Linked DNA regions of Homo sapiens: all the other regions are linked to region 2. Evidence: fine-mapped expression QTL. A gene starts in region 2. Each other region holds a variant in brackets. All regions are shown on one strand. Distances are from middle to middle. Region 1 overlaps UBTD1 (ubiquitin domain containing 1). Region 2 holds the start of MMS19 (MMS19 cytosolic iron-sulfur assembly component). Region 3 overlaps UBTD1 (ubiquitin domain containing 1).

The links. PIP is the estimated chance that this variant, and not a neighbour inherited with it, causes the effect. A credible set is the group of variants that fine-mapping cannot tell apart.
Region 1: its variant is the best candidate, but not a certain one, in a credible set for the expression of MMS19 in iPS cells (HipSci, PIP 0.76).
Region 3: its variant is the best candidate, but not a certain one, in a credible set for the expression of MMS19 in tibial nerve (GTEx, PIP 0.75).

The regions. Positions count from the first base shown.
Region 1 is chr10:97,528,139-97,532,270 of GRCh38, reverse strand. All of the region lies in intron 1 of UBTD1 (ubiquitin domain containing 1), which reads right to left. Among named protein-coding and RNA genes, the nearest start is that of UBTD1, 31 kb to the right of the region's middle. The variant A/TTCAA (reference allele first, on the strand shown) is at 2,071.
Region 2 is chr10:97,496,387-97,500,518 of GRCh38, reverse strand. MMS19 (MMS19 cytosolic iron-sulfur assembly component) reads left to right here and starts at 2,097. Exons shown (of 31, transcript NM_022362.5): 1 at 2,097-2,246. The coding sequence starts at 2,135. It overlaps UBTD1 (ubiquitin domain containing 1), which reads right to left and starts at 1,595. Exons shown (of 3, transcript NM_024954.5): 1 at 1,246-1,595. The coding sequence starts at 1,315. RefSeq lists silencers at 976-1,175, 1,186-1,945 and enhancers at 2,186-2,355, 2,716-2,765, 2,442-2,972.
Region 3 is chr10:97,518,419-97,522,550 of GRCh38, reverse strand. The region is part of intron 1 of UBTD1 (ubiquitin domain containing 1); the gene reads right to left. Among named protein-coding and RNA genes, the nearest start is that of UBTD1, 22 kb to the right of the region's middle. The variant T/C (reference allele first, on the strand shown) is at 2,075.

The DNA of each region.
Region 1 (4,132 bases), 32 kb before region 2:
AAACAGCAAACAAGTGAACTTACAAATCTCCCTGCAGACAACTCCAACTGCTTGGTTTGCTCCAGGGCCAAGAGATGGCAGACTGAGAGCGCCTTGACCCAAGGTGCTCCCTCCACTGGCTGCTCTCCCGGCCCAGTCAGCCCCCCACTATCTACTCCTTGACTCTCTCACCTTTCTAACCCTCAGTGTCCCACCTGGCTGTCCCTGCCCACCTCCAACTGCCTGCCAGGATGGCCAACTACCCAGCCCCCAGGATCACAATGCCTTGTTGCTGAGTCTTCCTGCTGGTCTTGGCCCCCAGGTCTGTGGTCCCACTCCTCATCACACCACAGGCCAGTTTTTCTATTCTGGGACCCATTTGGAGACTACCTCCTGGTGGTAAATTCTTAGCAAAATCCCATTACACCATGGCCTGTCACATTCCTCATGCTCCGCCCTCACCTGGGGACCTGGAAACCACAGGGGAGACTGTTGTGGGCCTAGGAACTGTTTATCACAGTTTCCAAGGGCACGAGACAGTTTCTCGGAGCACCAGGATGCTGGTGCTCAGAAAGGGCCAGAGGGTCAGGAATGGACCCGATACCTAGAATCGCCCCTGGGGGACTAACCAAAGGCTGAAGCTCAGGGACTGGCTCCATGACCCAGTGATCCCAAGCACAGTCAGGAGTCTCTGGTCCAACCACTTTTCTTATTTTTTACATTTAAAAGATGACATATGTCGGCCGGGCTTGGTGACTCACGCTTGGAATTCCAGCACTTTGAGAGGCTGAGGCAGGCAGATCACTTGAGGTCAGGAGTTTGAGACCTGCCTGGCCAACATGGTGAAACCTCGTCTCTACATAAAGTACAAAAATTAGCTGGGCGGAAACCTCACCTCTACGAAAATACAAAAATTAGCCAGGCGTGGTGGTGCACGCCTGTAATCCCAGCTGCTCAGGAGGCTGAGGCAGGAGGATCACTTGAGCCCAAGAGGTGGAGGTTGCAGCAAGCCGAGATTGTGCCACTGCACTCCAGACTGGGTGACGGCAAGACTCCATCTCAAAAAAAAAAAAAAAGATGGCATATGTTAAATTTAAAAAAAATAGGCTGGGCGCAGTGGCTCATGCCTGTAATCCCAGCACTTTGGGAGGCCAAGGAGGGCGGATCACGAGGTCAGGAGATGGAGACCATCCTGGCTAACAAGGTGAAACCCCGTCTCTACTAAAAGTACAAAAAATTAGTTGGGCGTGGTGGCGGGCACCTGTAGTCCCAGCTACTCCGGAGGCTGAGGCAGGAGAATGGCATGAACCCAGGAGGCAGAGCTTTTAATGAGCCGAGATCGCGCCACTGCACTCCAGCCTGGGCAACAGAGCCAGACTCCGTCTCAAAAAAGTAAAAAATTTAAAAATTTAAAAAATTTTTAAAATAAAAATTATATAATAAAAACATAAAAAGGAAAAACATAAGTAACCTATATCCTATCACCCCCAAATAACCAGCAATAATATGTTGAGACATTTTCTTTTGTTCCTCTCAATTAGCATTCATATTGCTGAGATCATATGGCATGTACAAGCTTCTACCATTATGATGTCCACGATCCTGTTTTTATTTTAATCTGAAACCAGCTGCTGGACCAGTGGTTCTCAACCCCTGCTGCTTGCCGGATTTACCTGTGCCCCCTCTTCCCTAGGTTCTATCCTTAGAAATCGACTCAGGACATAAAGAAAATATAGAATAAATATAACACTTCAAAAAAATCCTGTTTTTACTTCACACAGAATCATCTAATAAATATTTATTGAGCAAATATGTGCTGAGCACTATAAAGTATGCTTTTGTAAAAATTTTTTTGAGATGGGGTCTCACTCTGTAGCCCAGGCTGGAGTGCAGTGGCGCGACTGTAACTCACTGCAGCCTCAAACTCCTGGGCTCCAGCATTCCCCCTGCCTCAGCCTCCTGAGTCACTGGGATTAAAGGTGTAAGCCACCATGCACAGCTCAGGATGCATTTCTTATAATAAAGAGCTTGCATCATTCTTCATTCATTCATCGATTCATCCATCCATTCATTCATTCATTCATTCATTCA[A/TTCAA]GAAACATGTATTGAGCTTCTAGTATGCACCAGGCCCCGTGCTGGGGAACACGGACACAAAGTCACTAAGGCTCTCAAGGTCAGAGCTAGTGAGGGAGACAGACATGTCAGGAGATTGTTAGAAACTAATGCACACATGCAAGGGGAGTGATATGCACAGGAATCAGGGGGACACGTGAATGTGGTCTCACCCCCTCTGCGGAAGGTCTTAAAGTTTGCTCCAAGTACCAAAGAACAAGCTGGAGTTAGCCAGGCAAAAGGGCAAGGGGGCTGGGCTCGCCAGACAGAGGAGGCAGTGTGAGCCTACTCTGGGCTCAGGTTTGTGGAGCTGCAAGCAGTGCTGCCAGGTAGATCACACGAGGCAGGAGGTGGTCAGAATGAAGCCAAAGAAGGGCAGATCAGTCCCAGTCCCTCTCCCTCTCCCCACGGTCTCCCTCTCCCCACGGTCTCCCTCTCCCTCTCTTTCCACGGTCTCCCTCTCATGCCGAGCCGAAGCTGGACTGTGCTGCTGCCATCTCGGCTCACTGCAACCTCCCTGCCTGATTCTCCTGCCTCAGCCTGCCGAGTGCCTGCACGCCTGACTGGTTTTCGTTTTTTTTTTGGTGGAGACGGGGTTTCGCTGTGATGGCCGGGCTGGTCTCCAGCTCCTAACCGCGAGTGATCCGCCAGCCTCGGCCTCCCGAGGTGCCGGGATTGCAGACGGAGTCTCGTTAACTCAGTGCTCAATGGTGCCCAGGCTGGAGTGCAGCGGCGTGATCTCGGCTCGCTACAACCTCCACCTCCCAGCCGCCTGCCTTGGCCCCCCAAAGTGCCGAGATTGCAGCCTCTGCCCAGCCGCTACCCCGTCTGGGAAGTGAGGAGCGTCTCTGCCTGGCCGCCCATCATCTGGGATGTGAGGAGCCCCTTTGCCTGGCTGCCCAGTCTGGAAAGTGAGGAGCGTCTCTGCCCGGCCGCCATCCCACCTAGGAAGTGAGGAGCGCCTCTTCCCGGCCGCCATCCCATCTAGGAAGTGAGGAGCGTCTCTGCCCGGCCGCCCATCGTCTGAGATGTGGGGAGCGCCTCTGCCCCGCTGCCCCGTCTGGGATGTGAGGAGTGCCTCGGCCGGCCGCGACCCTGTCTGGGAGGTGAGGAGCGTCTCTGCCTGGCCACCCTGTCTGAGAAGTGAGGAGACCCTCCGCCCGGCTGCCACCCCGTCTGGGAAGTGAGGAGCGTCTCCGCCCGGCAGCCACCCTGTCCGGGAGGGAGGTGGGGGTCAGCCCCCGCCAGGCCAGCCGCCCCATCCAGGAGGGAGGTGGGGGGTCAGCCCCCCACCCGGCCAGCCGCCCCATCCGGGAGGTGAGGGGCGCCTCTGCCCGGCCGCCCCTACTGGGAAGTGAGGAGCCCCTCTGCCCGGCCAGCCGCCCCGTCCGGGAGGGAGGTGGGGGAGTCAGCCCCCCGCCCGGCCAGCCGCCCCGTCCGGGAGGGAGGTGGGGGGGGTCAGCCCCCCGCCCGGCCAGCCGCCCCGTCCGGGAGGGAGGTGGGGGGGGTCAGCCCCCCGCCCGGCCAGCCGCCCCGTCCGGGAGGGAGGTGGGGGTTCAGCCCCCCGCCCGGCCAGCCGCCCCGTTCGGGAGGGAGGTGGGGGGGTGAGCCCCCCGCCAGGCGAGCCGCCCCGTCCGGGAGGGAGGTTGGGGGTCAGCCCCCTGCCCGGCCAGCCGCCCCGTCCGGGAGGTGAGGGGCACCTCTGCCCGGCCGCCCCTACTGGGAAGTGAGGAGCCCCTCTGCCCGGCCAGCCGCCCCGTCCGGGAGGGAGGTGGGGGAGTCAGCCCCCCGCCCGGCCAGCCGCCCTGTCCGGGAGGGAGGTGGGGGGGTCAGCCCCCCGCCAGGCGAGCCGCCCCGTCCGGGAGGGAGGTTGGGGGTCAGCCCCCTGCCCGGCCAGCCGCCCCGTCCGGGAGGTGAGGGGCGCCTCTGCCCGGCCGCCCCTACTGGGAAGTGAGGAGCCCCTCTGCCCGGCCAGCCGCCCCGTCCAGGAGGGAGGTGGGGGAGTCAGCCCCCCGCCCGGCCAGCCGCCCCGTCCGGGAGGGAG
Region 2 (4,132 bases):
TCATCTCTCCTCAGCCAGAAGAATGGCCAGAGTTACCTTCAGACAAGAGAATTTCAATAAGTTTTACTGCATCCTTCCCATAAAAACACATTTCTGCCTCCACAAGTCATCCTGTCCACCATGCAGACATCCTTCCCTGCTTCCCCTGGTTCCCCCATCTTCCTTCCCAGTTTCCGCAACCCAAGCAACACACCTTCGGTGTCAAGGGAGACAGGAAACTCCAACTAGAGTTTCCACTTCATTAACAACTCTGCCTGTGGCTCCTCTTACATAAGGGGATATGTGGCAATGGGGTGGGAGAGGAGGCTGAGTTCTAGCCCCAGGTGAGCTCCTAACTAGCTGTGTGACTTTGGACAAGGTGTTCAACCTCTCAGGATCTGGGCTTTGACACAGAGTAGGAGATGGGTCCATCTGGAATCCAGACAAGTTTGAGCTCTCAAGTCTACGATATTATTCCCAGCGGGTCCTTGCAACACCCTCAAAGAAGGAAGTGAGTGTAAGACCCAGAAAAATGACCGACAGACCTCTTCCCGGGGCGAAATGCCAGGGCAGGCGGGGTGTACCATGAAAGTGAGAAAGCGTTGCGCGGGCCTGGAGGATCACCAGCGAGCGATCTCACTCCCAAAGCTGGGAAGGATCCCAACAATCCCAAGGGTGACTCTCACCCCGCACCCCATCTTTTATAGACTCCCAGACGGCCGAGAGGCTCTAAAAACCCCTGCGGGAAAAATAAAGATTTCTTTCCCAGAGTCCTGCGCTGCTTTGCAAGTCGGATTCCCGCAGACACGATCTGCAGCTCGATAATGACACAGTCTTTGGAAGGAGCGACTGTTCTCGCCTCGCTCGCTCCGAGTTCTGGGGACGCCTGGCTGCCCGCGCCGTGCCCCGACGGGCCGGCGTCCGACCCCGGCCGGAGCTGCCAGGCCAGCGGCGCCCTCGCCCCCGGCCTCCTCCCGATCCGTCGGCCCCGCTGCGGTCTGCAAACATTTCCTGCCCCCACCCCCACCAGGAGCTACCCAGTTGGAGAGAGTTGGTCGCGCAGCCGGCTCAGTGCTCGCAGTTGCCCCAACTCAGCTCCCCCGGCCGCCCGGCGCTGGGGAGCGGCCCCCTCTGGCTGCGGAGCAGCCCATCGGGGAAACCCAAGCGCCAGCACCAGTGGGGAGTCCATCGGTAAGCCCAGGACTCGGGCGAGGAGGGGGACAACTGGCGGGATGCCCGAGGCCCTGCTCCCTTCCCCATCGTTACCTGCTCGCTTGCGGGGGTGTCCCGGGGCTGCCGGCCTCTCCCGGCGCTGTCTCCCCACGCAGTTGCCCATGCTGGCTCCTCAGCCAGTCCCCATGCACCGGAGGCGGCGGGGTGGTCGGCTGCTCAGCGGACGGCGGCGTCCCGGGTCAATGGCTCCGGCCGCCCGGCATCGGGCGCTCCCCGATCTCCCCCCGGGGGCGCGCTCAGCCCCAGCGATGGCTCCGCCAAAACTTTGCGGGCCAGGGGAGAGAGGGAAGTGGCAGACTCCCCAGCACGGTCCCAGGTGGCCGGGCCAGGGGGGCCCGCGACGGTGCCCGGCCGGAGACCAGCTCCGCTGGAGGGGCGGAGAGAGGGGGCGGGCACCGCCGCAGCTACTCCCGGCTCGCTCGGGGCACCAGGCAGGGGCCGGCCCCCTGGAGCCTGTCACTCACCTGCCTAACCCCGCCCCAGGCCGGCCCCTCTCCCTTCCGCCGGCTCGCGGTGCCCGCGCCGCCGCCACCACCCGCCCCAGGTGCGCATGTGACCGACAGCACCGCCCCCTAGGGCTGGGCCTGATTTTCTCATTGGCTTCCCCCGTGGTGCGTACCGCCCCTCTCCCCACCCAGCCAGGTGCCCGCCCCGCAGCCCGTCTCCCGGGGAGCCGGGCTGGGAATTATTCGCCCTCAATCGCCTCCGGCTGCGTGCCCAGCAGCCGCCTTCCCTCTCGGTGCCACCGCCCCATTTCAGGCCCCGCCCCTCCCTGGAACTGCCTAGGCAGAAGCCGGCAGGCACGTGACCCCGGCGCCCCGCCCCCTTGCGCTTCCCCGGAGATTGGCTCGGGAGGCGCATGCGCGGAGAGCCCGTCTCGAGCCACCGCCCATATCCCCTCCCACGGTCTCTAGTTCGCGTTATGGCCGCTGCCGCGGCTGTGGAGGCGGCGGCGCCTATGGGTGCCCTATGGGGCCTCGTGCACGACTTCGTCGTGGGTCAGCAAGAGGGCCCCGCTGACCAGGTGGCTGCAGGTACGGCAGACGGCGCCGCGCGCCTTCCGCATGGGGGCCAACAGGAGGGAGCGGCCTCAGTACAGGCGCCGGGCGGGAAGGGAGGAGCGGGGTGACTTTGAGAGATTGGTCTCAAGGCTGGTTAGTGAGCACCGCGAGGTTCAGAGCCGTAACAAGTTAGAGAGTTGCCTGTGTCTTCCTTAAAACCATTTACACTTCTCATCTCCCTGTAGCCAATTATAGGGAATCATTACATTTTACAGATGAGGAAACTGAGGCTCAGCGAGGGCAAGAGGACTTGCGCAGGGCTGCAGACCAGGCAGGAGGGGGAGGTGGGACTCGGACCCAGGCGTTCAGGTCCGAACCGGGTGCTCACGCCACGAAGCCATGCTGTTTGTGGGAGGTTGACGTGTGGAGGTGCATCCTCGCAGCGTCCGCTCCCGTCGCGTGGCATCCTGGGAGTGGCAGATGGCCCCGCGCTCTGACTGGCTGGAATTAAGAGGAGTTGAGGAGACGGGCCAGGAGGAGCTGGAGATGTTCTGGGTGTCCTCCTTAAGACTTTCTCTCCGTTTCTTGCTAAAGTTCTTGATTAGTTTGCTCCATGACGTTTTATGTGGCGTTTGTTTTTGTCTTCTTCCCAGACCCCCACTTTCCTGCTTTTGACCAGTTCAGAGATCTCTTAGTTCAGACAGCTTATCTAAAATTAGAATAAAACGATTTCCAGGCTTCCGTGGAGTTCTGAGACTTTGCTCTTCTAGGAAAAAAAAAAAACTACTAAAAAGTTATTGAATGTTAGGAGGCCTTCAGATCTTGGGTTTAAGTAACAATATAAAATTATCTAATGAGTAGTTTTTTTAAAAAAACTTTGGAAATTTCGTATGCTTGGAGAGAAGTAAGGACACATTTCTCTTGGATATTGAGCGTATTAACCTTTAGAATATGTAAGAAAAGAATAGTGAATCTGCTAGAAATATAATACTTTGTTCGTTAGCAGTATTCCACTTTAATTCAATCATGCCACTATTGTTGAATACATATTATTCCCCAAACATGATGCAAAGCAATAGGAATATAAATACAAATTAGGTTAGATCTGTGCCCACCAGGAACTTATAGTATGCTGGGAGAGGCAACCATTCTGTAAGAGGTGTGTGCAGCGTAGTTTGGAAGCATCAAGGAGCAAATACCTGGTGCTGCCACCAAACTTAACATCTTACAATTTTATGAAATGTAGTGTGTTATCAGTGTTTACAATTTACAAGTACAGTGTCTTACCAATGTCATTTTCCCTCATATTTTATTATGAAAATTTTCGAATATCCAGCCAAGTATAAAGAATTTTATAAGGAGCACATCACTTAGGATCTATCCTACCATTAACATTTTAATATTACTTGCTTTATCATATAGCTATCCATCCATTTAAATTGCAGATACCTGTACACTTTCCTTTAAATACTTTGGCATGCATGTCATTGACTAGAGTTTGTTGACGGTTTATTTTGATGTAAAATGGAATATATAAACCTTTAAGTGTACGTTCACTGATTTTGACTAATGCATACACCTATACAATCCAACCCCCTACGAAGATATAGAACATTACTATATCAGTGTCATTTGTGATGAGTCTTTCACATTTATGCGATACGAAAACAATAATTTTGGATTTTTTTTTGATTCAGAACATATTTTGAAAAGACATCTTGAATGTCTTATCTTGAATAAGGACTTATCTTGAATAAGGACTGCAAATTCTTCTCTTTTTTTTTTTTTTTTTTTGAGACAAGGTCCCTCTCTGTCTGCCAGGCTGGAGTGCAGTGGTGAAATCATGGCTCACTGTAGCCTCGACCTATGCTCAAGCAATCCTCCTGCCTCAAGCCTCCCGAAGTAGCTGGGACAACAGG
Region 3 (4,132 bases), 22 kb before region 2:
TGGGCAAGTTACACACCCTGTCTCCGATCTTCACCACTCTGTAAGACAAGTCACCCAATTCAAACCCCAAGAGCTATAACAGGAAAACTTTACCTAAAGGAAACAAACTTCTCAGGCAGAACCAGTGAGTGAGAGACACAAAGGAAGCACACTTGGGCTCAGCCAAGTTCACACTGATCGGAGGGAGCTGCTCTCACAAGGCCATGGTGTGGGCAATGAGACAGGGCACAGGCACTCACTCTACAGAGAGACAGGCCAACGCATTCAGTGCGTTCAAAAGCTAGCCTCGCCCAAAGAAAGTCTGGCTGAATGCCTGGCAAGGGTGCTAAGTGGAACGACCCCACATTGCGTGGGCAGCTGGACATGACCTTTCAGGCTTTTCCAGCTCTGGTGCCCTGCCACAACACTCTGGAGTTGAAGAGGTGATCTTGTCTATGTCTTGCAGAGCTCAATTCCAATCACTGTCAGACATGCTCTTGCCACCTTCTGAGGTTTACGGAAGGGCTCCCATCTATAGAAACTTGATGTTGTGGCAGGCACTGTGGGACCACCTCACACCTCTCTGTATCCAAAGCTAACCATATGGCCACAGAAAGTCAGTATGGCAAAGAAAAAGTCAAAGGACAATCAGTCCAATGACGCAAACATCTGTAGTTCCAAGAAGCCCAAGGCCAGCTACTTGACAACAGCAGCACAAAACAGGTGCATGCTATCCCTGAAGCCCATTCTAGTGCCAGCCTCCATGCCAGAGCCTGGCCAGGTGGGTGTGTGACCCACTCCAAAGGGGGCCAGGCACACACTGCTGCCCAGCTGCTGCTGGGGGAAATCTGGACCAAACTCCGTAGCTGGGGCTTCAGGGAGATCAGGGACCCAGAACACAGAGCTCCAGGATCTGGTTAGTCTGGAGGCTGCTGCTCCTGCCTGCCTGAGGGTGGCCCTCCCAGCTTGATTTAGAAAAAGCCTCTACCAGGCTATGGCAGAAGGGCTTAACTTTTGCAGAGCCAGATCCCACTGGAGTCAGAGAGGTCGTGGAAGGCTCTGCAGCGTGTGCCCCAGCTGACGCAAGAATCCCTGGGAGTGACCCTCACCACCCCTGGAGGCTGGGCTCTCAGAGGCAGCCCGTTCCCACGTCAGACCACTCTCCTTTGGGAAAGGAGATCTCCCTCAGGGGGAACAGAAAAGTAACTCCTGGAAACTTCCACTCATGAGTGCCAGGCATCCAAGCACCTAGAAGTGAACTCAAATGCCACTTCCTCAAGCGTGCCCTCCACCAGCCAGGGAGCTGCCCACCCAGCAGAGTCTCACCTTACCAACCATCATTTGCATTGAGTTCATCACCCCTACCTGTGGAATGAAAGGCGGGTCCCAGGTGAGAAGGCAAACAAAACAAAACACTACAGATTAAATAACAAGGTTAGCTCAGAACTCAGCATGAAGTAGGCACTCGTGCTGGGGAGGCGAGATGGGAGCTGGCAGGCCCAGGGCCTCAGTCTGTGGCCCGGCTTCCCCAGCAGATCTCCCTCCTCTCTCCCTCCTGCCCTCCTAGTGGTCCTCTCTCTTTATAGAACATTGTGGAAGAGATATCTGCTATGGGAAGAAGGTCACAGCAGACAGTCACCAACTGCAGCCCATGAAAACCAGACTCTGAGCACTTGCTGGCCAGTTTAGCAGCTCCGGACAGTGTCCTGGACACGGCCTCTCTCTCCTTTCTCCTGGAAAGGGAAAACACCTCCTTACCCCAACAGGGCAGAAACCGGGGTGGCCACTTGCTTATTTCCCTTTCTCTCTCCAGCTGTGCCCCTGCCCAGAGGAGGCATCTTTCTCTAATTCACCCAAAGGTGGTACATGGACCAGCAGGCAGCCCTGGCCAGGGGTGGGGACACATGAGACAAACACGGCTCCCTCAGTCCCAGTCTCCAGGTGTCAGCGTAGGTGTCTCTTTTTCAGGGAAGGCTTCCTGACCCTCCATTCCAAAATAATTCATTTCTCCTACCCCATAATTCTCTCCCAGTACCTTATTCTTACCTTTGTAGTATGTCTTACATTTTGATTACCTGAGTATCATGTGTTTCCC[T/C]GTTATTCTGTGGGACCTGGGAGGGAAGGACCGTATCTATTTTGCTCAGCTGCACACCCAGGATCAAGCACGGCACTGGGCATGGAGAAACTCAATGCTCATCTGGGCTTTATGCAGACAGATGCTTCAGATTAGCCTTGAACCAGGACCTCAAGGACCACATAACACTTTCATTTCGACAAAGCCATTGGGTCAGCCACCCAGAGCCCCATGAGGGTTTGATCCAACTGAGACAAAGCAGGTAGGATGGGTAAGAAACAGCATCCACCATCACTGACTACCAGCCAGGTGCCAGGCATTATCCCACATAATCACCACAGTTACATGATAGGGTAGGTACTACCACCATCTATGTAACAGATGAAGGAACTGAGACATTTAGAGGTTAAGGAATACTACCACAAAGCAGTAAAGCTTGGATTTAAGCTCTGCCATGGTCTGAGCCGAACCTGTGCTCTTAACCACTAAGCTACAAGGTCCCAGTTAGTAAACCAGTGGTGTTTAGTGCACTTGCCCCAAGCCCCAAGCCCTTGGGTCTTTTTTGATGCCCCATATAGTATGCACCATCCTCAGAGACCTCCAGTAAACACCTGCAGGGCTGTGGGAGACAGAATGACAGGACACATACAGTCTCTTGTTGGGAGACAGCTTCTTAGCCTCTTAAAGCACATACCCCCTTTTAATCAACATACAGGCTTCCCATATACACCCCCACCTAAAACTGCTATGCCTCACTTGAGAATTCCTGCAATATCAGGCAAGATTTTGTCCAAGTCCACTTTCTTTAATTGTCTACATTTAAAAAACAATATATTTTTCCAAAGCTAAAATGAGATTATGATCCTGAATATGCTTTTCAAATTTCACACTTGCCCCAATCCCCAGAGACTGTGATTCATTCTCCCTCTCTCTCCCCAGTTGACAATCACCACTCACGGACAATAATAGCACACAAAAGGTTTACCACAAAGAGCAGAAATGTTCCCTGTCAATACAGAATGTGTAGAACAGGCATCTTGGGGCATTTCAAGCATGCTCAGGAGAGAAGGGAACATGATTTAAGTGGAAAGATCGTCAGAGAAAAGTCAAGATTAGGCTATTATTTCTTCCTCTGTAGCCCCTTATTTGCAAGGATAATGTCGTGAAGTTCTTAAAGCTTTACGGAAGACTATAAAATGGGATGCTGGTAGGGGGACTCCAAGCAAAGAGAAATACTACAACCTCTACCATCCAAAAGTTCTTTTTGCTGTTTGGGATACAGAGAAAGGAGAACAAAGGATGGCTCTGAGAATGACACTATGAGGTCTCCTTTGAGCACGTTATTATTTGCAACAGGCAACTAGAGAAAACGAAAACTTGAAGTTCAAGTGGGCTCCGGAGATGCCTGGCCCATGGCCGTCTCCTCCTCTAGTGATTAGGAGAGTGCCCTGGGAGTCAGACTGATACAGGTTCTGGTCTGGTTCTGCTACTTACTCATTGATGATGTTGGGCAAATTACACAACCTCTCTGGGCCTCTGTGTTCCCTGCTGTGAGAGGATGATCATACAACTTACTTCATTGAGTTACTACAAAGATTAAATGAGATAATACATGGAAAAGGTTTGGTACTACATCTGGAAAACATTAAGTGAACATGGGAAGTACTTCTAAGTGTTAGCCTTATTGTGCTTATTTCTCTCCTTGTTTCCCGAGAGGAATTCAGGCAGCTGGAAGGGCAGTCTGGCAACCCTCTCATTCTCATTTCCTATTTATTGTCACAAGTGACATAAACTCTCCAGTCAACGACAAGAACAGCTGGGCAGACCAGGGAGATGCACAGCTGCTGCACTTTAGAAAAAATAATGCTCCAAGGGGTCTGAGATTGGAAACGAGCAGGCAGGAGAAGACAAAATCTGGCTTGGGGTGGGAGAGAGCAGGCAGCTCTGCCAGATGCTCCGTGGAGGGAAAATGAACAGAAATAGCCAAACGGGCTGGAGGGCAAGGAAGACACACATAGAAGCCAGGCCTTCCTGGAGAAAGGAAGCTGCAGGTGAGCTGGAGGCAGCCTCGGGCCGGTA